Homo sapiens: one gene and its partners. The protein of the gene in region 1 purifies or fractionates together with the protein of each later gene. This does not show direct contact. Each region holds a gene or a part of one and is shown in the gene's direction. Other genes may lie near its edges.

Region 1 (3,674 bases):
AGTTTCAGTTATGCTGGAGAGTCTTAGTGATCTATGGCACTGCACGGTGACCACAGTTAATAGTGATGTATTGTATCTTTCAAACTGCTAAAGGAATCAATTTGTAATTCTCCTTAAAAAATTAAGTTGGTGAGGTGATGGCTATCTTAATTAGCTTATGTGTTTCTCCCATGTGGATATCAATCCAAACGTCACATCATACCCTACAAATATACAGAAAATTATTTTTCAATGAATAAATAAATAAATTTGAAAAAAATTAAATGAGGAATTCAAATATAGAGACTCTCCAAGGGCCCACTGAGCCCCAAAGGATTTGGATCAAATATGGTGATATTATGGAAATATGTAGTAATATCTTAAAAATGTGTAAGATATAGTCTCTTTTTTTTTTTTTAAGAGAAAGGGGTCTCACTATGTTTTTAGGCTGGTATCGAACTCCTGGTCTCCAGTGATCCTCCCACCTCAGCCTCTCAAATAGCTAGAAATATAGGCATGTACCACCATGCTGGCTTAAGATGCATTCTTTGACACAGCAATTCTATTTCTATAAGTTTATCCATATAGGTAAGAGAACATATATACAAGATAATCACTGTAACTTTACTTATTACTGCAAAAGTTTAAAAATAACCAAATTGTAATAATTTTATAATATTTTATCAGTACAAAAAATAAGTGATGGCATATACAAACCCTGGGATAGTATAAGGCTATTAAAATTATAATAGCATTCCATGTATTTTGATATACAAAGTGCCAATGTTACAGGTGAAAAAAGCGAAGTGCAGAATACTATGTGTAACTGTTAATAGTGATGGTTTGCTGGGTCAGAACTGAAGGCCTGGGGGTAGAAATGAGAGCTCATGACTTCTACCTTTTGAATGTTGTTCCTTGTGCATGATTTACAATTTTCTAAAACTAAAAAAAAAATCTCAGAAAGGGGCTGTACGCACCTAAATTACTTTGATATTCCCCAAAGTGGAGAGAAGTACCCGCTACACATTTTATGTGATGCATTCAGATCACACCAACTCCTTGAACTAAATCCGAATTTTTATTTTAATCTGATAAACTTGGCCTACTATTTTACTGAACTCATTTCCCCTATAGCCTGATAAGGTCATTGACCTCTCCATACTGGCACCAGCGGGAGACTACTCACCTCGAGATCTCAAAAGCCTCCTACATGAGGTTAGTAATATCCCTGAATCCTGCAATGAATTAACTCTCTACTCCACTGAGTCCCAGGTCTGCCCCCAGAGAGTCATCCAGAGAGTACCAGGGACCATCTTCAGAAAACAAGAGGCATTTGATCCCCAAACTTCTTGAATGAAAGCGCTGTTGTTTTTCTTTTTTGAATATATAAAAGTAAATACTCAAGCAGATGGGAAACAGAACAGGATAGTAATACCCTTATCATCATTAACACCTTGGATCAAGAAGAGGCATTAAGCATACAGACTCACGCTTTGATGAAAGCTGGGAGAAAGAGGAGCATCAAAGGGATCTTGAGAACAAAGGCAGTCCTTCCCCTCCCAATCACATGCCCACCTCCTCTCACTGCAGCTTCTGTCTCAGGTCTTCTCCCAGCAGAGCTATAAATCCAGGCTGACTCCTCACTCCCCACATATCCACTCCTGCTCTCCCTCCTGCAGGTGACCCCAGCCATGAGGACCATCGCCATCCTTGCTGCCATTCTCCTGGTGGCCCTGCAGGCCCAGGCTGAGTCACTCCAGGAAAGAGCTGATGAGGCTACAACCCAGAAGCAGTCTGGGGAAGACAACCAGGACCTTGCTATCTCCTTTGCAGGAAATGGACTCTCTGCTCTTAGAACCTCAGGTAGGAGACATCAATCTTGCACATCTGCAAAATCTAGAAAAAAAGGATTGGAGAAAGGATCTGGAGTCAAGTGTGGAAAGGTCTACCTCACTTGAGTGACTTTACTTAATCTTCCTGGACCTTGATTTTCTCATCTATAAATTAATCAGTGAGAACCAAATAAATCTAAAAGATTTTCTTTTTTCTAAGACTTTCAGTTCCAAGATATTTCTGTGAAATTTGCTACTTTTAAGATAGAAAGAGCTACACTGACTAGTTCTTTGTAGATCTAAATGGGCAGACTTAGTTATATAGAGAGTGTTTTACTTTGTCCATTGGAAAAGCTTTTAGAACCTAGAGAGGAACCTATAGGTGTGTTTTGATGTAGGCTAATAGGCTTGATTAAATCTTTCTACAATACATCCTTAGATCAAAACATCATATTGTGTCTCATACATATACACAATTATTGTTTGTCAATTAAAACAAGTAAATATGTAAAATGTTAAAAAAAAAAAAAAAAAAAAAAAAAGGAGAGACAGAGAATGAAGAATTTGAATTTGGAAAGTCTTCAAAGACTCCTTGAGCACCAAAGTATTTGGTCCATGACATTAGCATGCACAATGCGGCATTTCAGAAACTGATTCAGGTGCTTTAGGGAGCCTTGTTAGGACCTGGAAATCACACATGGAGGTCAAGATTAGGCGTGTGGATGAAGCAGAATGAAGAGTAGGTAACCCTGAGGTTGAGAGGTATATTGTTGGACCAGGGAGCAGGTAATAAATACATCCTGGATAGACTCACATGGGGAAAAAAACTATGATCTTGCATGACTAACACATAGCTAGTAAGATTTCTTGTCACTTACGACAAAGACATGAATTTTCTCCATCCTAACATGACTGATACAGTGTCTCTTATTTAGACTATCTCAGTTAGTCTGGCTGTGCTTGTCCTTTTTCCCACCTCCCTCGCTGTGCCTGACCCTCTCTTCTTTCCACAGGTTCTCAGGCAAGAGCCACCTGCTATTGCCGAACCGGCCGTTGTGCTACCCGTGAGTCCCTCTCCGGGGTGTGTGAAATCAGTGGCCGCCTCTACAGACTCTGCTGTCGCTGAGCTTCCTAGATAGAAACCAAAGCAGTGCAAGATTCAGTTCAAGGTCCTGAAAAAAGAAAAACATTTTACTCTGTGTACCTTGTGTCTTTCTAAATTTCTCTCTCCAAAATAAAGTTCAAGCATTAAACTTAGTGTGTTTGACCTTTTTAATTTTCTTTTCTTTTTCCTTTTTTTTCTTTTGCTTTGTTATATGGTGGTTTGTATGGTTCCTTTGTATTGAGAATTCTGATCTACATTAAGTTAACTGGTCTTTGCATTCCAATGATGCACAATTTGAGCATCATAGAGCAATAACAAAATAACAAAAATGAATATAATTGGGTTTTTTATTGTTGTTGTTTGAGACAGTGTCTAACTTAGCCACCCAAGCTGGAGTACAGCGGTGCAATCTCGGCTCACTGCAGCCTTGACCTCCTGTGCTCAAATGATCCTCCCACCTCAGCCTCTTGAGTAGCTGGGACTACAGGCATGTGCCACCACACCCTACTAATGGTTTGTATTTTTTTGTAGAGACAGGGTTTCACCATATTGCCCAGGTTGGTCTCGAACCCCTGAGCTTAAGTGATCTGCTCTCCTCAGCCCCCCAAAGTGCTAGGATTACATGCTTGAGCCACCATTCCTGACAGGATATAAGTGTTAATTGGAATAGTTTGAAACTTAAAAATTCAATGCATTCCTAATGATACTCAAAAAGTAGAAGTTTACAATGAGAGGCAAAAAGTGGTTGTTGGCTCAAA
Region 2 (4,010 bases), on another chromosome or scaffold:
GAAACTGGAAGAATTCAGAATTCAATCCATCTTATAGGTAGATGATAAAAACTTGAAAATGATCAACAAGGCTACAATCTAATAACAGATGTACTATAGTTTTTCTTTAGGAACATATTTTTTCTCTCTATAGTCACCCCCATTTCTACCAAAGATAATCAGGGTAAGTGGGAGGCAGAGGTCACAGTGAGCCGAGATTGCACCACTGCACTCCAGCCTGGATGACAGAGCAAGACTCCATCTAAAATAAAATAAAATAAAATAAATAAAATAAAATTCAGACTAATTTGCTTGCAGAAAATATTTAGTCACATCAGACTTGGCCTAATTATTTACATAAGTGTGGCAAGAATAGTGATTGACCACGTAGGCTCTTCTTAAGTTTGCTTTGCTAGAACTTATCGATAAGGAATCTCAGATTGGACTTTTAACAACTTCTCAAGGCTAGGAAGTCAACCCAAGCCCAACTTCAGATTTCACCTGCAGTACCTATAGATTCATCATAGGTATATTCTCAAGTATGGCATCACACTCAAAACCTTGGTAATATGACCAGTGTTTCCTATTGTATCCTGTTGTAAAGAGAGCAGATACTTATTGAACTTATGCAAATAACAGTATTGCCATAAAAATAGGAATATTCACAAATAGTTTCTGAATTCCAGAGAGGTCTTGTAGGGAGAAAATGTTTCCATTTTTGTTCACAAGAGTATACTTACCAAATTGCTGTAAACTATAGATAGCTTAAAAGAAAATAAGTTTTCTTAAATCTGGACAACAAAACATTAAAAAGAACCAGCAACGTTTCAAATTTAAAAACCAGAAAAACCCATAATTCTTCATTAGTTCATTTAGTCTCATGTAATTAATTCTTGTTGTGCTTGATCTTGGTTATCAGTTTTGCAGACCCATCAGTTTTTTTCATTAGAGTTCTGGAAATTCTTTCCCAGTCCAATCGTATTATCTCGAAGTTATCAGAAATGGTACTTATCAGAGACGTTTCCGTGGATCTCCTTGAAGATGAAGCACTTCAGGATTATAGTTGCTTAGAAAAAAGCTTTTAGAAAAACATCAGAATAAAGCAATTAACTGTAGACAATAAGACTTAAAATGGTTGTGGTTAAAGATCTGATGAGAGTTCATAGTAATAATGACACAATTGACAAGGAAATCTGGTTATTGCTGTGCATACAACATTTTAACCTAATAACCAAAATTAAGGCTGATAATGTATCATATTTCTAGGAATATCATATAATTTTGGGGATACACCTTAATAGCAAGTATAAACATACATCAATAAATATAACTCAAAGAAGATTAAACATCATTTCTTGTTTGACAATGCTTCCCATATAATTAATACATCAAATGAGCCTAACTAGTTTAGTATCTCCCCTTTGCAGAATCTTTGAGATGTTCCAGGGCCCCCTGAAATGTTCCAAAGTTACTTCAAGTTCAGAAAGCCTTAATTTAGAATTTGATTTTGGGAAGTTTGTACAAAATGTCAAAGGTTTAAAATTAAAACACTTAATCAGCCTGGGCATGGTGGCTCATGACGGTAATCCCAACACTTTGGGAGGCCGAGGCAGGAGGATACCTTGAGCCTAGGGGTTCGAGACCAGTCTGGGCAACATAGGAAGACCCCATTTCTATATTAAAATTTTAAAAAATTAGCCAGGTGTGGTGGTGTGCACCTGTGGTACCAGCTACTTAAGCAGCTGAGGTGGGAGAATTACTTGAGCCCAGGAGATTGAGGACAGGTGAGCCACGATCGCACCACTGCACTCCAGCCTGGATGACATAGTGAGACCTTATCTCAAAACAAAAACAAAAAAGCAAAACAAAAAAAATCACTTGATCAAAATAGGATCACAGGTCACTGTGAAGTCACAGTCATTCATCTAACCAGAATGATAATTAAAAGACTTCAAAATGAAAATATAGAATGTTACATTGTTGCAGAAAAAACAGCTCTTTTATAGAGAGGACTCCATTTTCTTAAGTAATCAAGGACCTAGTAAAGACAACATGAAGCACAGGGAATCATCTTGATGAAACAAAGGATCTTTCTTTAGGAGAATTACCTAAAAGGTACAGAAAAACCTTTCACTGTTTCCTTTTAAGAACAGATCAATACTTCAAGAAAACCTTGTTTTAACAGAGAGGACCAAATTCTGATTTTTCATCAGTGTACTTTTGATATTAAGGCTCATCAAAAAAAAAAAAACACAAAAACTATAAGTTAGCCCATTCGACCACACTTGAAGTTCTTTTCTCTTCACAACTTCCTTGTATCCATTGGTTTGTCCTGTACTGTTCCTCTTTCTCATTGTGAAATAACCAGTCACTCTACTTTAGAACAAAATGACTCTCTTTTTCCCTTAATTAAAATACATCCTTACATTTTATGACTTCCTTTATAAACCGTGCCATACTTCCCTTGCATACAGAATTATGTCCCTTATTATTTTTAGTTTTAGTTGCTTATATTAATTAGTTTTTACTCCTTAGTAATCTTAATTTCTAGTGAAAACTAGCAAGCATTGTGAACTGTCTTCTATTAACATTCACCATTTCATAATTTCTAGAAACATGTTTCCTCAGCTTTTCATGCTTATTACAGACCCAATTATATTCTCTATGCCATACAAAAACAAGATGCCAAAGCATATATACTTTAGACTTATGTTCAGCAATTAATGTTTCAGTATTTTAATTTACTTAGAAATGATATTTTATGAATATCTATGACTTAATTTAACGTAAAATAACCGTAAGAGGAGGCTGGATATGTGGACAGGGGCCAAATGAAGAACTGCCTTCTGGTTGTAGATTTTCTTCTAAAGTCAGTTAGAGCCCCCAGAGAATGTTGAATAGAGATTGACATAATCAGATCCACAGAAAGAAAAGATCATTTGGTGGCTAGAGAGGGCAGTGAGGGGTGGAGCACATTAGAACCTCACCAGGAGAGAAATAATATGTTGATGTTTCTCTGGAAGCCCTGCCATGAGAACCTGTACTAGCTCATGGGACACGGAGGGTAGGTTGGAGGTGAGGTCAGTAAAAAACCAGATCACGGGTTCATGCCAACCTAGGACAGGCATGAAGAGATGGAGGTTTGGGTGAGGGAAGAGACTTCAGAGGAGAGTGGACAGGATGTGGAGGCAGGTGGGGATCAGCAATCCCCTGGTAGGGGCAGAGGGATTGCATCCTGGGCCTGGCATGCAACAGGCCCTGACCATACCTGCCTTTGTGCAGGCTGCCTTGCAGGTGAGGTTTAAAGCCAAAGGATGCACCCCAGCTTGCAGATACTTGGATAGGCTCAAGTTGCTATCCTTGTGTGCTAAGGGAGTCAAGAAGGCTCCCCAAAAAGTGTGTGGTGGGGGGGTGTTGAGGAGGTTGGGGAAATGGCATCATAGGATGTAGCTCACCTCACTCTGCTAAATACTTTTGACGTCTGACTCTGGTAAATACCTCCATCTACTTCCTCTTCCCAACCCCCCACCCACCTCCCTCCTTCGAGGAGTCCAGAAGCTACAATGCCAAAAGCAGACTACCAGCAAGAAAGGTGGGGGAAAGAAGGGGGTGGTGTGGCCACAGGCCTTCCTCCCAGCTCGCAGAGCCCCCTCCCTTGTATCAGCCCCAAGAAGGGCCAGCTTAGTTGCCTTCTTTCCAGGGATGCGTCAGGGTGTGCCAGGCTCTTCCTGCATCTGTCTCGTGGAGGTGAGGGTAACACTCCTTCCCCAGGCGTAACGTGTTCTTAGGAGCTCTGATACCTTCTGAAATTGTGTTCTTCTGAGACGTCGTAAGGAGTAAGTTCTAGGGTGGAGTATTAGGGTGTTTTTGCATTGATAAAAGTAAGTACCTGAGGCTAGGTAATTTATAAAGAAAAGAGGTTTAATTGGCTCAGGGTTCTGGAGGCTGTACACAGCATCTGCTTAGCTTCTGGGGAGGCCTCAGGGAGCTTTTACTCATGACAGAAGGCAAAGCAGGAGAGGAAGCAGGAG
Region 3 (4,520 bases), on another chromosome or scaffold:
CTCCTAACTAAAGCCAGCCCCTCACCTCAGCTCAGGATCCCATGCCTCCCACCTTTTCAGGAGCTTTGCTCCTGCAATGATCATTCCTCTCTCCTGAACCACCAACTCTTCCCTCTAAATGGGATCATTCTCCAAGCTAAGGGGGGAACTCCCCTTCTTCCCCCATGTCCTCCTATAGCTACTAACACATTTATCTGCTGCCTTTCAAAGCGAAACTGCATGAACTTATACAACCCACTTCATTGGAGTCATTTTTTCAAAATTATATGGAAAGGAAAATGAACGAGAAAAACCAAAACGATTCTGAACTATAACTTTGGGGAAATCACACTACCTAATTTCAAGAGTCATGTTAATTCTATAGTAATCCAGGGAATGTGGTACTGGGGAAAAATCAACAGATCAGAATGGAGTCCAGCAATAGGTTCACAGACATGATAAACTCATTTTCAAAAAAGGTGCAAAGGCAATGGAGAAATATTATCTTCTTGAGAAATTGTGTTGTTTTCTCCCTTGCTTCTTGGCCACGACATTCATTGTTCTTTACTCCCCTGGGTCCGTTCCCCGTGTTTCTCCTTTGCAGTTCAACTGCTCTTCTGTTTAACTGTCTGTCTGCCCCACCACAGTGTGGTAGCCTCCATGGGACATACCACGTGTGGTTCCTTGGTCTTCACATTTCCAGCATCCCAGATATTTCCTGCAACATGGCAGACACCCATGCATATATAAATGAGAAAGAAGTATGTATGAATATATATAATAAAATAATTTATTTCTGTCACAAAAGGTCTGAGACACATCCTCCACTCATGGTGACATGGGACTGTCCCCAGTGTTTCTGGATGCATGAGAATGGTAGGGCAAGAGAGAGAACGAAGCCTCTTAGTCCCTTTCCTTCTACTACAAACACCTTAGGGATGCGAGCCTGGGGAGAGAGGGAAAACCCCGGGTGGCCTTGCATGTGCCTGACTCAGTGTGCACGTCCCTTGCTGCCCAAGTCCCTTGTCCATGTGCCTTGCTGTCCGCCTTCTGTCCCTGCAGAGCTGTGCAAGGAGACATCATGACTTCCTTCTGTGCTGCTGACTAGGAGTCAGCCAGTAAGTCCGAAGATCAGTCTTCCCAGAGTTGAAGTGGGAGAGACTGTGAGGAGGAGCCCGCGGCGCGGTCTATGGCCTCCGACGGGGAGGTCCTTGAGGTTCCTGTCCTTCTCCTAACAGGTGGTGACACAGCCATGGCCTTGCTGTCGTGGGGGTCCCAGACAGGGGAGGAAGGAGGGCCATAGAGGGGAGGAGGACCTAGTGAACATGGAGTGAGTTTTGAAGGGGGAAACTATTTGTGGTATTTGAGTCCCGGAGGCATATGAAACCGCCCACAGAAGACACATTCCGAAGTCTTCAGTGGGAACCTGGGAGAGGGTAGAGAACTGCGCGGCGCGGCATGGGGTGGGGCTAGGAGAGGCGCCACAGCCCACTAGGCAGGCACCGACCTCACTGCGCATGTCCACTGGGTGTCTTCCCCTCGGCCCCTTTTCCCACGTGGTGAATGCCCTGGAGTTGTGAGGGTGTGAGGGTCGCGTTCCTGCTGTCTGGACTTTTTCTGTCCCACTGAGACGCAGCTGGTAGGTCCGCAGGCCAGTCCTCCCAAGGGTTGAAGTGTGAGTGCGTGTGAGGAGGAGCCAGTGGCTGTCCGGAGCGTGGGAAAGCATAGCCCGTGGCCTCAGAGGCCGAAGGGTCTCAAGGTGATCGTCCTTCTCCTCGTGAGGTGGCACTGCCATGGGCCTTGTTGTGGTGAAGTCAGAATGAGGGAAGAAGGTGGGCCGCGTAGTTGAGAGGGGTCAGGTGAAAATGGGGCGAGTGCTGGGGGTGCTGGGGCAGGTATCCGAGTCCCTGGAACCCTCGACCGAGGACGGATTCCAGACTCCTCCGTGTCGACCCGGGAAGGAGCAGGGTGGGCATTAAGGAAGGGAACTGGGAACGCTGCGGGTTGGTGACTGTGGCCCTGAGGTCTGTAAAGCGCCTGGCAGAGGTGTACAGTGAGGAGGGCCCAGAGCTGTGTGGCAACTTCTCAACTCCACTGTGGAGGTTTGAATGGGCGGGGCTCTGCATTCCAACAAAACTTGATTTTAGGGGGGAAATGGGCCCAGCAAATGGGTGTGTGACAAAAGCCGTGGTCACTGCAGTTTTAATTCTCTGGCTGTATTTTCCCAAATGTCTCCACGGAGGAGAGTTCAGTTGTGAAACCAAACCTCATCGGAAATATCCTGTCTTTTGCCAGGAGCCTTAAGAAATTGCTCAGCTAGCTTGACCAACTTAATGGCTTCCCAAGCATTCAGAAGGCACACATACTTACACTTGCCCTGAGACTTAGTTCGAAAGTATTTACAAACTTTTAAAAAATGACAAGTTAATATTTGGTCATGGAAGTGGTCAAATATAGCTGTCTTTTCAAGTGCATTTACCAATTCACAGTATTCTGTTTGCAGTGTGAAATATGATTTGGCGAGGAAGATCAACATATAGGCCTAGGCCGAGGAGAAGTGTACCACCTCCTGAGCTGATTGGGCCTATGCTGGTGAGTGCCTTAACCTTTGATGTTTTCTATTAGCAGAAAGTTATTTTTGTAACTTGTTGTTGTTGCAAAACTATGTTTTGTAATTGTTGTTGAACCAGTATAGATATACCAATAAAGGTCTCCCATGCTGAGAAAAATAATCATGGCATCTCATGAAGGAAAGACTAGTCCAAGAGGATTAAGTTCTTCTGTTGTCTGGATGGATGATCTTGTGTTCCCCAGATTTTGCCCATGATTTCCTTCTCATGCTTATTTGCAAAAGATTACACACATTCATCCCAGCTTAGATTAAAACAGCTTCCAAAGCCCTTGAGGGCAACTGTCTTAGAGTAACCTCTCTGTGGGAAGAGTAACTTTATGAAAAATAAGTATGTGGAATCGTGTTGGAGAAATGTCTTTAGACTTATGATCAGAAATATCTATGTATTCTGTATATTTGTATTATTGAAATGTATCGATAACAAAACTTTTTATCTGCACACACACACACACACACACACACCCCTGGTTCCAGGAGCCCGGTGATGAGGAGCCTCAGCAAGAGGAACCACCAACTGAAAGTCGGGATCCTGCACCTGGTCAGGAGAGAGAAGAAGATCAGGGTGCAGCTGAGACTCAAGGTGCTGGGAAGGGAAAGAAAGAATGTCTATGGGGAGGGGAGGAGGCCTATGTGTGCATCATGCCTTATGCCATGACCAGTAACAGGAGGAAAGAAAACATTAGGAAAGGATCTCAAACATTTGCTGAGAGTTGGCTGGAAAAGTGAAGAGTATAGTTTGCAGCTTCATGGATATAATGAATCTTCTCTTACCTTTGAAATATATTTCGTATGCTTGAAAATACAGTCCTTGCTAAATCAGATGAAACTGTTTAATTTGATGTACAAAAATATACATTATTTCACTAGTTTACTTTGATCTTCTTAGAATGTTGTTGTCTGATCTTCTCAGCCAAGGTGTCCACAGTATTGTATGCACCCTTTAATAGCATGTAGAATGCCAAGTCACCCTACCTGAATACACTGAATAAAGCCCATTTGCATAAGGATGTTAGCCCCATTTTATAAATAAGAAAACTGAGGCTCTGAAATGGAGGCTTACCAAGAACAGTTGAGTCATGGAGAAGGAATTCATATTTCATTCCAAGGTTTGTGTTCTCCCTACCATTCACATTAGAAAACGTGAATGATTTTGCTTGAAATGTTAATACTCAAATGTGTCTGTACTGTAAGTACTTCAGTATTGGCTCAGGACAAAACAAAGTTCAGTGAAGCAGGATAGCAACGCCAGAAAAGAGCTCAATGAATGACAGCCACTCTTTCCTTTGCTTTGTATTTTTGAAAGTATGTTTGGTAAAATCTGGATAATTCAGGACATTGGCATACAGGTAGCTATATTAGTATGATTTTAAGGGGCTTTTAAAGAGTTGTTTATATACTTTTATAATTAGAAAACTCGAAGTACGATAAGATTATCATGAAACAGAAATTATTTCCTCAACAGAGAGCATTTTGAAGTTAAACATTGACAGAATTTGGGTCATGGGTTACTTTAGCAATTCACTGTTAAGGGGTTTCCAGAATATGACTGTCAACAATGCCCATTAATTTTTTTTTCACTCAAGTTTCTGTACTCTTGTGGAAGACAGCGATTTTGCTGTTATATTCGGTATTTTTTTGTGAATGGGATTCATTTATGGAAAGTTACATATAGGGCCTTTGGACCTAAGTTTGTTTAATTTTAACCAAAAAATTTTCAAGTTACCTCAACAGGTGATGAGTGTCAGGACTGTAAGATTTGTCATAGGCTCACCAATATATTCATCTAATCTTTCAGAAAATTACATTTAAGTTATTATTAAAATGCTATCCATTGGGCAGTCTTTAGGTTTCCTAGATAGCTGACACTCACTGTTTATAGTACACAATGGTAAAGTATAGGAAATGTAAG
Region 4 (4,010 bases), on another chromosome or scaffold:
CAAACTTGGCTCACTGCAACCTCTGCTTACCGGGTTCAAGCGATTCTCTTGCCTCAGCCTCCCAAGTAGCTGGGATCACAAGCATGCACCACCATTCCTGGCTAATTTTTGTATTTTTAGTAGAGACGGAGTTTTACCATGTTGGTCAGGCTGCTCTTGAACTCCTGATCTCAGGTGATCCACACGCCTCGGCCTCCCAAAGTGTTGGGATTACAGGCATGAGCCACCACGCCCGGCCACCCCTATCATTTTCATCACTCCAAAAAGAAACCCCATACCTTTAGTAGTCTCTCCCATTTCTTCTGTCTTCCATCTCTGGCAACAACTATACTTCTGCCCATGGATTTACCTATTCTGGACGTTTCGTGTAGGTGGAATTATACAACATGTGGCCTTTGAGGTCTGGCTTCTTTTCATTTACCATGATATTTTCATGGTTCATCCATGTCATAGTATGCATCAGTACTGCATTCCTTTTTTTTTTTTTTTTAAGAGATAGAGCCTGGCTCTGTCGTCCAGGCTGGAATGCTGTGTGGCAAGATCATGGTTCACCGCAGCCTTGAACTTCCAGTCTCAAGTGATCCTGCAGCCTCAGCTTCCTGAGTAGCTGGGACTACAGGCATGTATTACCTGTATTACCACACCCAGCTAATTTTTAAATCATTTTTTGTAGATTTGGGGTCTCACTATGTTGCCCAGGCTACACTCAAACTCCTGGCCTCAAGTGACCCTCCCGCCTCGGCCTCCCAAAGTGCTGGGATTACAGATGTGAGCCACTGTACCCAGTCTGCATTCCTTTTTATGGCTGAAAATAACATTCCATTGTATGTCTATACTGCATTTTGTTTATCCATATATTTGCTGATGGACACTTAGGTTATTTCCTGGCTGTTATAAATACTGCTACTATAAACATTCATGTACAAGTTTTTGTGTGAATGTAAGCTTTTTGGTTCTTTCCCAGATATACCTAGGGATGGAATTGCAAGGTCATATGATAATTTTATATTTAACTTTTTGAGGAATTGCCAAACTTTTCCACAGTGGCTGCACCATTTTACTTCCCAGGTTCAAGCAATTCTCCTGCCTCAGCCTCCCAAGTAGCTGGGATTACAGGTACCACCAGCAAGCCCAGCTAACTTTTGTATTTTTAGTAGAGATGAGGTTTCACCATGTTGGCCAGGCTGGTCTCAAACTACTGATCTCAGGTAATCTGCCTGCCTTGGCCTCCCTAAGTGCTGGGATTACGGGCATAAGCCACTACGCCTGGCCTAAAATGTTTTTAAGAAAGGTTGTGTGAGAAGAGAACAAGAGGCACATTATATAATGTTAAAACAGTCAGTTCACCAAGAAGACCTAACTATATATGCACCAAGCAACAGAGCTTCAAAATGTATGATGCAAAAACCAGCAGAAATAAAAGAAGAAATAGGCAAATCTGCAATTGTAGTTAGATATTTTACTACTCCTCTCTCAGTACTTGACAGAATAGTGGGTAGAAAATCAAAAAGAATACTGAACAACACAAAACTACACAACACTGTCAACCAAGTAGATCTAATTGACATTTGTTTACCTAATGACAGCAGAATACACATTCTTTTCAAGTGCACATGTAAATTCACCAAGATAAACCACATTCTGGGTCATAAACCAAATAGTAAACTTTATATATAAGAAGAACACTTCTAAACAATCCATGGATTAAAAACTCTCAAAGGAAAGCTTTGAATATTGTGAACTAAACCAAAATGAAAACTCAACATACCAAAATTTGTGGGATACAGCCAAAGACATGCTTAGATGCATTAGCTGCCTTAATTAGAAGAGAAGGTCTCAAGTGAATAATTTAAGCTTCCACCTATGAAACTAGAAATGAAGAGCAAAATAAACCCAAATTAAACAGAAGAAAGAAATAATAGAGAACAAAAATCCATGAAATAGAAAACAGAAAAAAAAGAAAAAATCAGTGAAACTCAAAGCTCTTTAAAAAAAAAATCAATAAAATTGTAAACCTCTAGCCATACTGGCAAAGGAAAAAAAAAAAGGAAAACAAATTACCAATAGTAGAAAAGAAAAAAAGGAAGACAAATTACCAATATTAGAAAAGAAAGAGGAGATAACCACCGTAGACTGTACAGGCATGAAAAGGATAATACAAACAGCTCTACAGATAGAAATTCATCAACTTAGATGAAATGGACCAGTTCCTCAAAAACCACTGTATTAGCTTTCTATTTCTCCTGTAATAAATTACAAATGTAGTGACTTTAAAACAAAAGGTTTTTATTTACAGTCCTGGAGACAGAAGTCTGACATGGGTCTTACTGGGATAAAATCAAATTGTTGACAGGACTTGCATTCCATTGTGGAGGCTTTAGGAGAGAATCTGTTCCTTTTCTTTTCCTGCATCTAGAGTCTGCCCACATTTCTTGGCTTGTGGCCCCCTTCCGTTTTCAAAGACAACAAGTCGAGTTGTTCTCACATCTTACTCTAACTTCCTCTTTTGCCACATCCTTCCACATTTAAGGACCGTTGTGATTACATTGAACCCACCCAGATTGTTTTTTTTTTTAAGTTCAACTGATTATTAACCTTAATTCCATCTGCTACCTTAATTCCTATGTAACATATCTTTACAAGTTCTGGGGATTAGAACATCAGTATCTTGGTTGGGTGGGAGGGGGTCATTATTCTGCTGATCACAGCCACAAACTATCCAAACTCACCCAAGTAGAATAATATTTCACCTTTTACGTCTGGCTTATCTCACTTAGCATAATGTTTTCAAGGTTTATTCCTGTGTCTTCGTTGCTTTTTTTTTTTTTTTTTTTTTTTTTTTTTTTTTTTTTTGAGTCTGAGCCTCACTCTGTCTCCCAGGCTGGAGTGCAGTGGTGCGATCTCAGCTCACTGAAACCTCCGCCTCCTGGGTTCAAGCAATTCTCCTGTCTCACCCTCCCGAGTAGCTGGGATTACAGGCGTGTGCCACCACGCCCGGCTAATTTTTGTATTTTTAGTAGAGACGGGGGTTTGCCATGTTGGCCAGGCTGGTCTTGAACTCCTGACAGGTGATCCGCCCGCCTCGGCCTCCCAAAGTGCTGGGATTACAGGCGTGAGCCACCCCGCCTGGCCCTCGCTGCATTTTAATAAAGATACAAAAGCTAATTCAAATGGAAAAAGGATATTCTTTTCATCAAAGACATGAACAATTTAACATTTACATGGAAAAATAAAATCCTCAACCTTTACCTCATATTTTATATAAAATTAACTCAAAATGGATCATACATCTGAGTATAAAACCTGAAACTATAAAACTTTTAGAAGAAAACAGATCTTTGTGACCTGGGGTTTGGCAATGAGTTCTTAAGACATGACACCGAAGGCACAGTGCGTAAAACAAAAATTTGATAAATTGGGCTTCATCAAAATTAAAAACCTTTGTTCTGTAAAAAAAAATTCTATTAGGAGCATGAAAAGACAAGCTATACACTGGGAGAATATATTTGAAAATCCGGTATCAGAAAAAGAACTTGAATCCAGAATATATAAGAAAACACAGCAGTAATTTAAAAACTCAATTTTAAAAGGGGCAAAAGATTTAAGTAGGCTTAAATAGACATTTCACCAGATAGGATACAAGGATGGCAAATATCCCCCTGAGAAGAGTTCAGCATTGTTAGCCATTAGGGAAATGCAAATTTAAGCCATGATATTGCATATTAGAACAGCTAAAATTTAAAAATACATAGTGATAGTACTAAGTACTGGCAAGGATGGGAACAGCTGGATCTCTTAGCAAAATGGTGCAGCCACTCTGGAAGACAGGTAGAATCTTAATCATACATTTACCATGTACTCAACTGTGTCATATCTAGATACTCATTCTAGAGAAATGAAAGCTCATGTTCACATGAAAACCTGCAGACACGTGTTTTATAGTTTTGTTTATAGTTGTCAAACCTGAAGACAATCTAAATGTCCTTCAGCAAGCAAATACATAAACAAAT
Region 5 (4,010 bases), on another chromosome or scaffold:
ACATTAATGACAATATCTCCTGGCCTTAATTCTAAGAGCATGATTTCAATGGATAGTAATTCACCTCATTTTTTATCTAAGTATATAACCTCTTTCTTTTCTAACATTGGTTGGGGATAATTTCAATAACATTTTAAATACTCAGCTGGCATAATTACAGTTTTATTTTAACAAATTTTCAGTTTATTCTTAAATTCTTAGTGTATAATTTTTTCAGGTTCTATGTACCTTAGCTTTTCCTAAATAACATTCTGAGCTCTATAAACATATGGTATGGATTTATCTGGTAAAAAAAAAAAAAAAGATATAAAAGCAAAGACTACCCCATATTTTTAATTGACAATAATAGTACATATTCATGGGATATATAGTGATGTTTTGATACATATAATGCAAGCAAATACCCTGATCTAATCACTATACTGCATATTTTATATGCAATTGGATAATACAATGATTTTCAGCCCTGATTCTACATCAGAATTGCCTTTGACACTTTTTATGAACATATTTTTGCAGATTTCATTTCTGAACATTATGTTTTGATGGACCTAGGTGGGGCTGAAGTATCTGACTTTTTTTTAAACTACACAGGTATTCTGATTTGCAGCCAGAATTAAGAATGGCTAGCTTAAACGTTTTTTTTGCTTGACCCCTCCTGGCTCCATGAGACTCAGCAATACATCTAAAAAGAAAAAAATCTACTTCCTTACTCCTAAACTTATCTATAATCAAACCTGGACCGCATCTGCCAGTTTTTGTGCAGTGCACACAATTGCCAGCCTAAAACATTATATAGCAAGTTCTTAGGACTGTTACTCAGGGAATGCCCAAGATATATATGCTTGGCCCCTATGTGTCCTAGGAGTTGCAGGCAAAGAATTATTGCACAATTGCAAAATAATTGGTATCACAAGGCAAGTAGTAATCATAATGAACCTTTTCATGTATTTTAGTTCGTGTTGAGTATAAACTGTCTGATTTAAGATCTTCTACCTTCCTTCTATCATTATTCCAAACCTTTGAAATATTTACTGGCAAGTATATCTTTTTAAAAAGCTACTGTACAATGAATCCTCATCTCTTTCCTATTTCAGCTACATTTTTTTTCCTATCCCTGAATAAATTTGCTGGGATTTTTACTTTCCACATCAGAAAATGAGACATAAGTTCCTGACATTCTAAAATTAACACAACCTTTTAAAAAAATCTAAAATTAATTTTAAGGAGTTAATTATCATTTAAAAGAGCTGGGCCACTGCATCTTAAGTAATACTATTATCATTATGTTCCATTATACTCTCATTCTAGCCACAGTCACAAAAATTTTTAAAAATCGAATGGCAAAGTTTTTTTTCAGTCTCTTTGCCCCTGTTCCACCATGATGCATATTTGTTATAACACTTGAAATAATTCTAAAAATCCTGATGATTCATTTTACTTGTAGAGTTGAGCTGTACCTTTTGAGTGAATTCCTAAGCTATGAGATTAAGTAAATGGAAGCAAGCTTTAGTGTAGTAAAATACAATGAAGGAAGGTAATAAAAATTTCTTCATTACCTTTATCTCTGGAAGCAAGCTTTAGTGTAGTAAAATACAATGAAGGAAGGTAATAAAAATTTCTTCATTACCTTTATCTCTCTTATGTCTCAACTCTTCAAAAATCCATTCAAATAGTTTTTTCATGCCATGTATGTATTTTCTGTCTTTACATGCTTTAAGTAATTTTGTGTATACCATTGGTTTTAAGTTATAACAAGTTAAATTACAAGAACTTTAAGGAAGAAGCAGGACCTGTTGCCTGCTTTTGCATTTTTGCCTAGTGTGTTTGTTTCTGGAAATATGTCTTCTCATTAGTTACATTGAATACTTGTTTATATATCAAATACATTTAATCATTTCATTGAGTATATTGAATATATCAGTTGTATACTTGCCAACAAATGATTGTTTTAAAATTTTAGATGATATTGGTGCCCATATGAATGTAGGAAGAACTTATAAAAATTTAAATAGAACCAAAGAAGCTGAAGAATCTTACATGATGGCTAAATCACTGATGCCTCAAGTAAGTTGCCATAATTTATCTATTGTGTCATATCTATTAGATGTCCATATTGAATAGAATTATCTAGAAGGAAAATCTTTATCTTTTCTTCAGTTAGTTGATATAAAAGTAAGTTTTATAAAGAATTACATTTTTCTAGCTTACTTAATTTTTTTTTTTTTTTTGGAGACGGAGTCTTGCTGTATTGCCCAGACTGGAGTGCAGTGGCACGATCTCAGCTCACTGCAACCTCTGCCTCCCAGGTTTAAGTGATTCTTCTGCCTCAGCCTCCCAAGTAGCTGGGACTACAGGTGCCTGCCACCACACCCGGCTAATTTTTGTATTTTTAGTAGAGACAGGGTTTCACCATATTGGCCAGGCTGGTCTCGAACTCCAGACCTCGTGATCTGCCCACCTCAGCCTCCCAAAGTGCTGGGATTACAGGCATGAGCCACTGCGCCCGGCCGTAGCTCACTTAATTTTAAAAATTGTTTTTATAGTCCATTTGTAAAAACTAAATTCATAAAGTATGAATTTTAGATATTCTTGATTATGAGTTATCAGCAAGTTAATGACTTTAAATAAATATAATTTTATTTATGTATATTAAGCATACAGTTCAACATTATTCCTATCAAAAAATAAAGTGATAAAATTAGTAGATACATCTCTTACTATATTGTGTCCATCAGTTGTTAGAATAAGATTCATTAAATATAAGGTAGTATCGAAATTGGAAGATCTTACCCTATGTCAATTTTCATGTTATCAGCAAAATATTTCTGGGTTGTGACCGTAGGATAGTTAATTTATTCCAGAATACTAAGGACTCACTTGTCTGGTGAAGTTTGGAAATTAAACAGTCTGATTATTAAGTTAAGGTTTTTATAATACATAGTATATATGGATCGAGACTTCCAGTGAACACAATAAATTAGATATGATAAAAACCAATAACAAATACAATTTAACTGTTACAGTTAAGGATTAAAATAATCCTTAAAATGTCATACAGTTCAACTTTAAAAAAAATTAACTATCCTATCACTATTAATATTACTATAAATATTATTACAATTGAGAAAACTTCAGCCCAGCTTAAGCTATTTTTTCTGAGGACATAAGACTATGCCACTAATTTTACCACTTTGTTAAAAATAAATAATAAAAATGTAAAAGAAAACACACACAAAAATGTGAATAAAAATATTTTACTTACAGTATCCTCAAAAATGTAAATAAAATAGTACTTTGTGGCATTAAGGATATATTTTTTCATTCATGCCACCTCAGTGGATTATTAGCTTTTTATTTGTATCTGTCTTTTTCTGAAGTCAAACAAATCAGAACTTTTAGAAGTCAAGGTATCTTAGGTTTAGTCAAAACAGGAGTAGAACCCTGATCTCTCAGTCCAGTGTATTTTTTACAGTATGTTCTGAGTTATTTTGAATTAGCCAATAGGAATATGTACTTTTGATTTTTGATACTGAAATATCAAATCATGAAAATGCCTTTTCTTCTAAACAGATTATTCCTGGTAAAAAATATGCAGCCAGAATTGCCCCTAACCACCTAAATGTTTATATCAATCTGGCTAACCTGATCCGAGCAAATGAGTCCCGACTGGAAGAAGCAGATCAGCTGTACCGTCAAGCAATAAGCATGAGGCCCGACTTCAAGCAGGCTTACATTAGCAGGTATCCCAGTTCAACTTTAAGCTATCATTATGGAATATTGAAACTGCATCTCCATGTACATTTTGAATGAATTGGTTTTTTTTGAAAAAAAATTATGTTTTTAATAATCTTACTTAGCAACCAAGTGCATAGAAGAGCATAACTTTTTAGACTGACAGTCAGATTTTATTGATTTGAAATTAACAAGGGGAATCCCTAACTTGTAATAGCCAACTTAGGTTTTGTATTAAGGAAAGGGTAGAAGCAGCTCTGTCTTAGTTGCATTTT
Region 6 (4,010 bases), on another chromosome or scaffold:
ACCTGGTGTGTGTTTGCTTTTAATTGTAAAAACATTTAAGTTTCTACTTTGTTCCCTGACAACTTCTTCTCTGGAACCTGTAAGTCCTGTGTTCTCTTGTGGGGCTCACCTCTTTTTTGCTTTCCCACCAAAATCAAATAAAAATCCTCCTACCTGACATGGCTTTGTTTTTTTAATCTTCTTAACTTTCAGTCCACATGCATCTGAATGAGACTGACCTTTACATTTAGTTTGTCTCATTTTCTGTTCTCCATTAAGTTTTTTGTTTTTGTTTTTGTGGTTTTTTTTTGAGACAGTTTCTCACTCTGTTCCCCAGGCTGGAGTACAGTGGTGCGATCTCAGCTCACTGCAACCTCTGCCTCCCGGGTTCAAGTGATTCTCCTACCTTAGCCTCTCGAGTAGCTGGGATTACAGGTGCCCACCACCACGCCCAGCTAATTTTTTGTTGTTGTTGTTTGTATTTTTAGTAGAGATAGGGTTTCACCATGTTGGCCAGACTGGTCTTGAACTCCTGACCTCAGGTGATCCGCCCACCTTGGCCTCCCAAAGTGCTGGGATTACATGTGTGAGCCACCGCGCCTGGCCATGTTCTCCATTAAGTTAGAATCTCCTGTGACATCTTTTTTTTTTTTTTTTTTGTTTGAGGGAAGGTCTTGCTCTGTCGCCCAGGCTGGAATGTAGTGGTGCAGTCACTGCTCACTGTAACCTCGAACTCCTGGGCTCACGGGATCCTCCCGCCACAGCCTCGCTAGTAGCTGGGACTGCAGGCACACACCTGTAGTCCCAGCTATTTGGGAGGCTGAAGTGGGAGAATCGCTTGAACCCAGGAGGCAGAGGTTGCAGTGAGCCGAGATCAGGCCACTGCACTCCAGCCTGGGCAAGAGAACGAGACCCTGTTCCAAAAAGAAAAAAAAAGATAATACAGTGTTTCCATTGTTAATCAATGCACGGTCTAGAATCTTTGATGGAATTATGGACATTGCAAACACTTTCCAGAGATCTATACTCACCACGTTCAAAAAGCAGGCTTCTGTTCTAAGCAGGTGGGGGTAGGAAATCTCTCTTTCTTTTAATATAGTAAATGTTTGATCAGCGATCTTATATTTAATATTTGAGGTACTTGAATTATTATTATTTTTTAATCCTCTGAATGTATGTAAACAGTTAAATCTTAATGTAAAGCCCAATGTAACACTGTGAGAGTAAGTGGAGACTGAGCTGTGTAGCTCCGTCTCTTCTGTTGAAACTCTTCAGGATGGATTTAGTGCGTGTTAGGGCTCAGGGAGGACAGGTTGAGGGTTAAGCATCCCAAGCATATGTTTATTTCTGGCTGAGTATTTACAGGGCTTAAAGCCTATGCATTTTGTCTTTCCGCCTAGGACAACAAAAGTAAAACCAGCATGGGTTTTGGCTCTCACTGTTGTTTTTGCCCTCTGTAAGGTTATATAAAAAACACAGAGAAATTAAACTACGGGAAAGAACATCAATATAAGCTGACCGTCACTGCCTATGACTGTGGGAAGAAAAGAGCCACAGAAGATGTTTTGGTGAAGATCAGCATTAAGCCCACCTGCACCCCTGGGTGGCAAGGTGAGCTTCATTCTCTCCCCTGCGCTCACATCTGCTCTTAAAACTGATGTATGCGGCAGCAACCTAGAGTGTGTGTTTTCCTTCTCTCTTCCCCTGCTGACTTGTGGACCAACACAGGATGGAACAACAGGATTGAGTATGAGCCGGGCACCGGCGCGTTGGCCGTCTTTCCAAATATCCACCTGGAGACATGTGACGAGCCAGTCGCCTCAGTACAGGCCACAGTGGAGCTAGAAACCAGCCACATAGGGAAAGGCTGCGACCGAGACACCTACTCAGAGAAGTCCCTCCACCGGCTCTGTGGTAAGGAGACCAGGCGTTCTTGCATCCGGCTGGCTTTGGTGAAGGTGGGAGGGACCTTTACAACTGGAAATACTTGTGTGTGTTGTGTTCATAATTATAAACTGTGACAGAGAATCTGCATTTCTGAAGTGAACTTTGCTGCCTTGCTGGCTAGTTTTCATACTGGATGGGCTTCGGGGGTGGGGCAGGGGGTGGACATCAACTCCTAAACGTCTATTCAACATGTTGTGTATATGTGCATTTTAAGAACCACTGGTGGCCAGATGTGGTGGCTTATACCTGTAATTCCAGCACTTTAGGAGGCCGAGGTGGGAAGATCACTTGAGCCCAGGAGTTTGAGACCAGCCTGGGCAACACAGCGATACCCCATCTCTACAAAAAATTGAAAAATTAACTGGGGATGGTGGCATGGACCTGTAGTTCCAGTTACTTGGGAGGCTGAGCGGGAGGATCACCTGAGCCCGGGAGGTTGAGGCTGCAGTGAGCCGTGATGGCACCATTGCACTCCACCCTGGGCAATAGAGTGAGACCCTGTTTTAAAAAAAGAACCACTGATTTGAAGGAAGTATTTCTCCAGCATACTCTGAGAATCATCCAAAAAGGGCTTCTATAGGAGTACATGGAGTGAGTTTTACATGAAATGAGATGTTTACTTACGAATTGAAGACAAAGGCCAGGGCATGGGGGCTCATGCCTATAATCTTACCACTTTGGGAGGCCGAGGTGGGCAGATCACCTGAGGTCAGGAGTTCGAGACCAGCCTGACCAACATGGAGAAAACCCTGTCTCTACAAAAAAAACAAAAACTAGCCGGGCATGGCGGTGCACGCCTGTAGTCCCAACTACTTGGGGGGCTGAGGGAGGAGGATCGCTTGAGCCCAGGAGGTGGACGTTGCAGTGAGCCAAGATCACGCCGCTGCATTCCAGCCTGGATGACAGAGTGAGAACCTGTCTCAAAAAGAACTGAAGGAAAAATATAGGTAATACAATAGCTTTTGACAAACATGAAGTAGAAAATCAGAACTAAAGATAGCCACATCTAACTTAGAATCTCAATAGATTTTCTATATCACAATATTGTGTGGAGAAATTGAGAGACAGAATTACTGGGAAACCCACCAGAAGGCTAGGTCTCTCTTTACTGTCAGCTGCGGATATTTTTCTGGTTTATCTAAATGAAGAAGAGGTGAGGTATGGATGGCTGTCATGGAAGATGTTGAGGGAAGAACATTTAGTTGACTGGTGATAAAATCCCACTAAATGAAGCAGCGTCTTCATAAATTGGAAGGGTCTTTTGTGTTTCAAAAAGCTTTTGTGAAACAGCTTTTCAGGGAGCATTTTCTTAAACTGATGAGTCTTTTCACTAGCCTGATAACAACCATGAGATTTAGGTTACTGGTTTTCTTTTTTTTTTTTTTAGACAGAGTCTCACTCTGTCACCCAGGCTGGAGTGCAGTGGCGCCATCTCGGCTCACTGCAAGCTCCGCCTCCTGGGTTCACACCATTCTCCCGCCTCAGCCTCCCGAGTAGCTGGGACTACAGGCACCTGCCACCATGCCCGGCTAATTTTTTTGTATTTTTAGTAGAAACGGGGTTTCACCGTGTTAGCCAGGATGGTCTCGATCTCCTGACCTCGTGATCCGCCCACCTCGGCCTCCCAAAGTGCTGATTGCAGGCATGAGCCACCGCGCCCGGCCACTGGTTTATAATTGAAAATTATCCAGATCACTTGAGGTCAGGGGTCTAAGACCAGCCTGATCAACATGATGAAACCCCCGCTCTACTAAAAATAAAAAATTAGCCAGGCGTGGTGCGAGGTGCCTATACTCCCAGCTACTTGGGAGGCTGAGGCAGGAGAATTGCTTGAACCCAGGAGGCTGCAGTGAGCCAAGAGTGTGCCACTACTCTCCAGCCTAGGTGACAAAGCTAGACTTTGTCTTAGAAAAAAAACAATAAATAAGAAGAAAATTATCATGTGGTAAATAAACCAAAGTAGAAAACTAGACATTATGCTGCCACAGTCCAATGATGAGCATATGGGGGTGTTTGGCAACTCTGAATCCAAATATTCATAATTGTCACCTAAATATATTTAAGTAAGGAGGTCTGGCACATTT
Region 7 (4,010 bases), on another chromosome or scaffold:
GCCAGGAATAAAGACAGCAGTGGATTTAAAAATAGTGAAGATCGTCCATTTTATGTGGTGTGTATTCTACCACACTGGGGCAGGCCAGGTGCAGCGGTTCACGCCTGTCATCCCGGCACTTTGGGAGACAGAAGTTTTGGGAAGATCAGTTTGTGAGATGACACTCTGACAAAGCTGGAAGCTGTGGCTCTTCCCAGCTCCCGACTAGAAAGAACACAAAGCAAAGAGCCCCAGGAAGCAGGTACCCACAGCCTTGTTTATCAGGGAGTTTGAGATCAGCCTGGGCAACATAGCAAGACCTCATCTCTACAAAAAATACAAAACAATCAGGCAGGCGTGCAGGCTCACGCCTGTAATCCCAGCACTTTGGGAGGCTGAGGCGGGCGGATCACAAGGTCAGGAGATCGAGACCATCCTGGCCAACACGGTGAAACCCCGTGTCTACTAAGAAACACAAAAAAATTAGCCGGGCGTGGTGGCGGGCACCTGTAACCCAGCTACTTGGGAGGCTGAGGCAGGAGAATGGCGTGAACCCGGGAGGTGGAGCTTGCAGTGAGCCGAGATGGCGCCACTGCACTCCAGCCTGGGTGACAGAGTGAGACTCCATCTCAAAAAAAAAATAAAAAACAATGAGGCAGGCGTGATGGTGTGCACTTGTAGTCCCAACTACTTGGGAGGTGGAGGTGGGAGGATTGCTTGAGCCTGGGAGGTTGAGGCTGCAGTGAGGGATTTTTTTTTTTTTTTTTTAAGACGGAGTTTTGCTCTTGTTGCCCAGGCTGGTGCAATGACGGGATCTTGGCTCACGGCATCCTCCACCTCCTGGGTTCAAGTGATTCTCCTGCCTCAGCCTCCCGAGTAGCTGGGATTACAGGCATGCGCCACCACGCCCGGCTAATTTTGTATTTTTAGTAGAGACGGGGTTTCTTCCTGTTGGTCAGGCTGCAACCTCCATCTCCTGGTTTCAAATAATTCTCCTGCCTCAGCCTCCTGAGTAGCTGGGATTACAGGCACCTGCCACCATGCCCGGCTACTTTTTTGTTTTAGGTAGAGACAGGGTTTCACCATGTTGGTCAGGCTGGTTGACCTCAGGTGATCTGCCCGCCTCGGCCTCCCAAAGTGCTGGGATTACAGATGTGAGCCACCACGCCCGGCCTGCAGTGAGCTTTGATTGTACCACTGCACTCGGGGTGAGACCCTGTGTCCAAAAAAAAAAAAAAAAAAAAAAAGTTGAGGCAGTTCCCAGATAAACAAAACAACAGGCCAGGCACTGTGGCCCACGCCTGCAATCCCAGCACTTTGGGAGGCCGAGGTGGGCGAATTGCCTAAGCTCAGAAATTCGAGACCAGCCTAAGCAACATAGCCAAACCCCATTTCTACAAAAAATTTTAAAAGTAGCTGCTTGTGGTGTCGGGCGCCTGTGGTTCAGCTATGTGGAAGGCTGAGGTGGGAGGATCGTTTGAGCCCTGGCGGCGGAGGTTGCTGTGAGCTGAGATCGCGCCACTGCACTCCAGCCTGGGCCACTGAGTGAGCTTCCCTCTCATAAAAAGAAAAAAAAAAAAACAGGCTGGGCGCGGTGGCTCACACCTGTAATCCCTGCACTTTGGGAGGCAGAGGCGGGTGGATCACGAGGTGAAGAATTCAAGACCAGCCTGACCAAGATGGTGAAACCCCGTCTCTACTAAAAATGCAAAAATTAGCAGGGTGCGGTGGCGGGCACCTGTAATCCCAGTACTCGGGAGGCTGAGGCAGCAGAATCGCCTGAACCCAGGCGGTAGAGGTTGCAGTGGGCCATGGGCCAAGATCACACCACTGCACTCCAGCCTGGGTGGCAGAGTGAGACTTCATCTCAAAAAAAAAAAGAAAAAAAACCAAAACAAAACACCAGAAGCTGGCGGCACTCCTGGGCGCCCAGCTGTGAGTGGAGTCTCCCTGTCCCGCCTTTGGGCCTTACCCGTGCTGCGCCTGCTGCCTGCATCCCCCTTCCCTGGGTCTCCGCACGTGGGCCCTGCCTCATTTTCCCGGTCCCAGTTTCTGCGTCACCTCCTGAGAGGGGCCTCCTGTCAGCTTCCACGCAGCTCTGTCACGGGTAGATTCTCTCACGAGTGGAAGTGGCTCTCAGCTGCACTGGAATGTCCGGTCCACACGGACGGGGCCTCGGCTGTGCTGTCCACCCTGTATTTCCAGTGCCCAGTAATAGGTGCTTAGAAAATACTTACTGAATGAGTAAGTATACAGTTGTACCAGGCAGGTGATGTTATTATCCTTTTTTTTTTTTTTTTTTTACAAGGAGTAAACTGAGTCACAGAGAAGTGATGTGACTTGGCCAGGATCATGCAGCTGGTCGGGGTGGAGCCAGGCTTTGAACCTGTCTGTCCTGCTCCAGAGCTGGTATTCATGACGGGTGTGCTGCAACCCCCTCCTTCTCACACAGAGAACCAGATGGTGTCTGTGTGTTACGCGCTGGACACCTAATTCACGATCCCCGCCGAAAACCACTTCGGGAGCATTATGAATTCCATTGTGTCCTCCACCCCCAAGGATAGGTTGGGATCCTGAACCCCCATCCCTCAGCATGTGACTTCATTTAGAGGTGGGTGTTTACAGAGGTCCTGAAGTGAAAATGAGGTCATTAGGGTGGGCCCTAATCCAGTGACTGGTGTCCTTATGAAAAGGGGAGATTTGCGCACAGAAACAGACGTGCTAGCTGGGCATGGTGGCGCATGCCTGTGGCCCCAGCTACTTGGGAGGCTGAGCAAGAAGACTGCTTGAGCCTGGGAGGTTGAGGCTGCAGTGAGCAGTGATTGCGCCACTGTACTCCAGCCCAGGTGTCAGAGGGAGACCCTGTCTCAAAGAAATATAAAAAATAGGCCAAGTAGACTGAGTGTGGTGGCTCACGCCTGCAGTCCCAGCACTTTGGGAGGCTGAGGTAGGTGGATCACGAGGTCAGGAGTGTGAGACTAGCCTGGCCAACATGGTGAAGCCCCGTCTCTACTAAAGATACAAAAAATTAACCCGGTGTGGTGGTGGATGCCTGTAGTCCAGCTACTTGGGAGGCTGAGGCAGGAGAATTGTTTGAACCTGGGAGGCAGAGGTTGCAGTGAGCCAAGATCGCACCATTGCACTCCAGCCTGGGTGACAAGAGTGAAACTCCATCTCCCCCCCCCAAAAAAAAAAAAATAGGCTGGGGGCAGTGAAATTGCAGCACTCTGGGAGGCCAAAGCAGGAGGATTGCTTGAGTTCAAGAGTTTGAGACCAGCCTGGGCAACATAGTGAGACCATGTCTGAAAAATCTAAAATTAAAAAAGGAAAAATGAAAAAAAAAAAAGAGACAGCTCCAAAGGGAAGAGGAAGGGAAGAGGGAGAGAGGAGATGGTCACCTGTGAGCCAAGGAGAGAGACCAGAGCGGATCCTCCCTGAGGGCCCTGAGAGGGAACCAGCCCTGCCCACACCTTGATCTGGGACTTCCAGCCTCTGGGACTGTGATTTTTTTTTTTTTTTTTGAGATGGAGTTTTGCTTTTATTGCCCAGGATGGAGTGTAATGATGCGATCTCGGCTCACTGCACCCTCTGCCTCCTGGTTTCAAGCGATTTTCCCGCCTCAGCCTCCTGAGTAGCTGGGATTACAGGTGCATGCCACCACGCCTGGCTAATTTTGTATTTTTAGTAAAGACGCGGTTTCTCCATGTTGGCCAGGCTGGTCTCAAACTCCTGACCTCAGGTGATCTGCCCACCTCGGCCTCCCAAAGTGCTGGGATTACAGGCGTGAGCCACTGTGCCCGGCCAGGTCTGTGAGGTTTTAAACCACCTGTCTGTGGCACTTTGTTACGGAACCCGAGCTGAGTGGTACAGGGAGGAAGGCCCTGTGGTTCAGCGCATTTTACAGCTGAGGAAACTGAGGCTGCAGTCTCCATCTGTGTGTCCTTTGGTTGCTTGTATGAGTGAGGTGGCAGGTTTGGGAATGAAACCACGCCTGCGGTGCCGGGGCTCCCACCGGTAACCTCCCGTTTTTG

Evidence for each region.
Region 2: the proteins of DEFA5 (region 1) and QSOX1 purify together in Homo sapiens (affinity purification with mass spectrometry; 2 studies listed by BioGRID and IntAct, with this or other methods). This does not show direct contact.
Region 3: the proteins of DEFA5 (region 1) and XAGE3 purify together in Homo sapiens (affinity purification with mass spectrometry; 2 studies listed by BioGRID and IntAct, with this or other methods). This does not show direct contact.
Region 4: the proteins of DEFA5 (region 1) and MCMBP purify together in Homo sapiens (co-immunoprecipitation; 3 studies listed by BioGRID and IntAct, with this or other methods). This does not show direct contact.
Region 5: the proteins of DEFA5 (region 1) and TMTC3 purify together in Homo sapiens (co-immunoprecipitation; 3 studies listed by BioGRID and IntAct, with this or other methods). This does not show direct contact.
Region 6: the proteins of DEFA5 (region 1) and CLSTN1 purify together in Homo sapiens (co-immunoprecipitation; 3 studies listed by BioGRID and IntAct, with this or other methods). This does not show direct contact.
Region 7: the proteins of DEFA5 (region 1) and RDH13 purify together in Homo sapiens (affinity purification with mass spectrometry; 2 studies listed by BioGRID and IntAct, with this or other methods). This does not show direct contact.

Annotation. Positions count from the first base shown.
Region 1 is NC_000008.11:7,054,694-7,058,367, reverse strand, and holds DEFA5 (defensin alpha 5 preproprotein), read left to right. Parts: upstream 1-1,628; 5' UTR 1,629-1,670; coding exon 1,671-1,842; intron 1,843-2,824; coding exon 2,825-2,937; 3' UTR 2,938-3,064; downstream 3,065-3,674. UniProt on the Homo sapiens protein: Host-defense peptide that maintains sterility in the urogenital system.
Region 2 is NC_000001.11:180,160,917-180,164,926, forward strand, and holds part of QSOX1 (sulfhydryl oxidase 1 isoform a precursor), read left to right. Parts: intron 1-4,010. UniProt on the Homo sapiens protein: Catalyzes the oxidation of sulfhydryl groups in peptide and protein thiols to disulfides with the reduction of oxygen to hydrogen peroxide. Plays a role in disulfide bond formation in a variety of extracellular proteins.
Region 3 is NC_000023.11:52,865,104-52,869,623, reverse strand, and holds the start of XAGE3 (X antigen family member 3), read left to right. Parts: upstream 1-1,540; 5' UTR 1,541-1,618; exon of another isoform or gene 1,619-1,811; intron 1,812-2,322; exon of another isoform or gene 2,323-2,374; intron 2,375-2,468; exon of another isoform or gene 2,469-2,482; 5' UTR 2,483-2,490; coding exon 2,491-2,571; intron 2,572-3,085; coding exon 3,086-3,191; intron 3,192-4,520.
Region 4 is NC_000010.11:119,862,572-119,866,581, reverse strand, and holds part of MCMBP (mini-chromosome maintenance complex-binding protein), read left to right. Parts: intron 1-4,010. UniProt on the Homo sapiens protein: Associated component of the MCM complex that acts as a regulator of DNA replication.
Region 5 is NC_000012.12:88,186,880-88,190,889, forward strand, and holds part of TMTC3 (protein O-mannosyl-transferase TMTC3), read left to right. Parts: intron 1-1,963; coding exon 1,964-2,067; intron 2,068-3,573; coding exon 3,574-3,743; intron 3,744-4,010. UniProt on the Homo sapiens protein: Transfers mannosyl residues to the hydroxyl group of serine or threonine residues.
Region 6 is NC_000001.11:9,747,344-9,751,353, reverse strand, and holds part of CLSTN1 (calsyntenin-1 isoform 1 precursor), read left to right. Parts: intron 1-1,440; coding exon 1,441-1,590; intron 1,591-1,707; coding exon 1,708-1,893; intron 1,894-4,010. UniProt on the Homo sapiens protein: Postsynaptic adhesion molecule that binds to presynaptic neurexins to mediate both excitatory and inhibitory synapse formation.
Region 7 is NC_000019.10:55,049,280-55,053,289, reverse strand, and holds part of RDH13 (retinol dehydrogenase 13 isoform 1 precursor), read left to right. Parts: intron 1-4,010. UniProt on the Homo sapiens protein: Retinol dehydrogenase with a clear preference for NADP. Oxidizes all-trans-retinol, but seems to reduce all-trans-retinal with much higher efficiency. Has no activity toward steroids.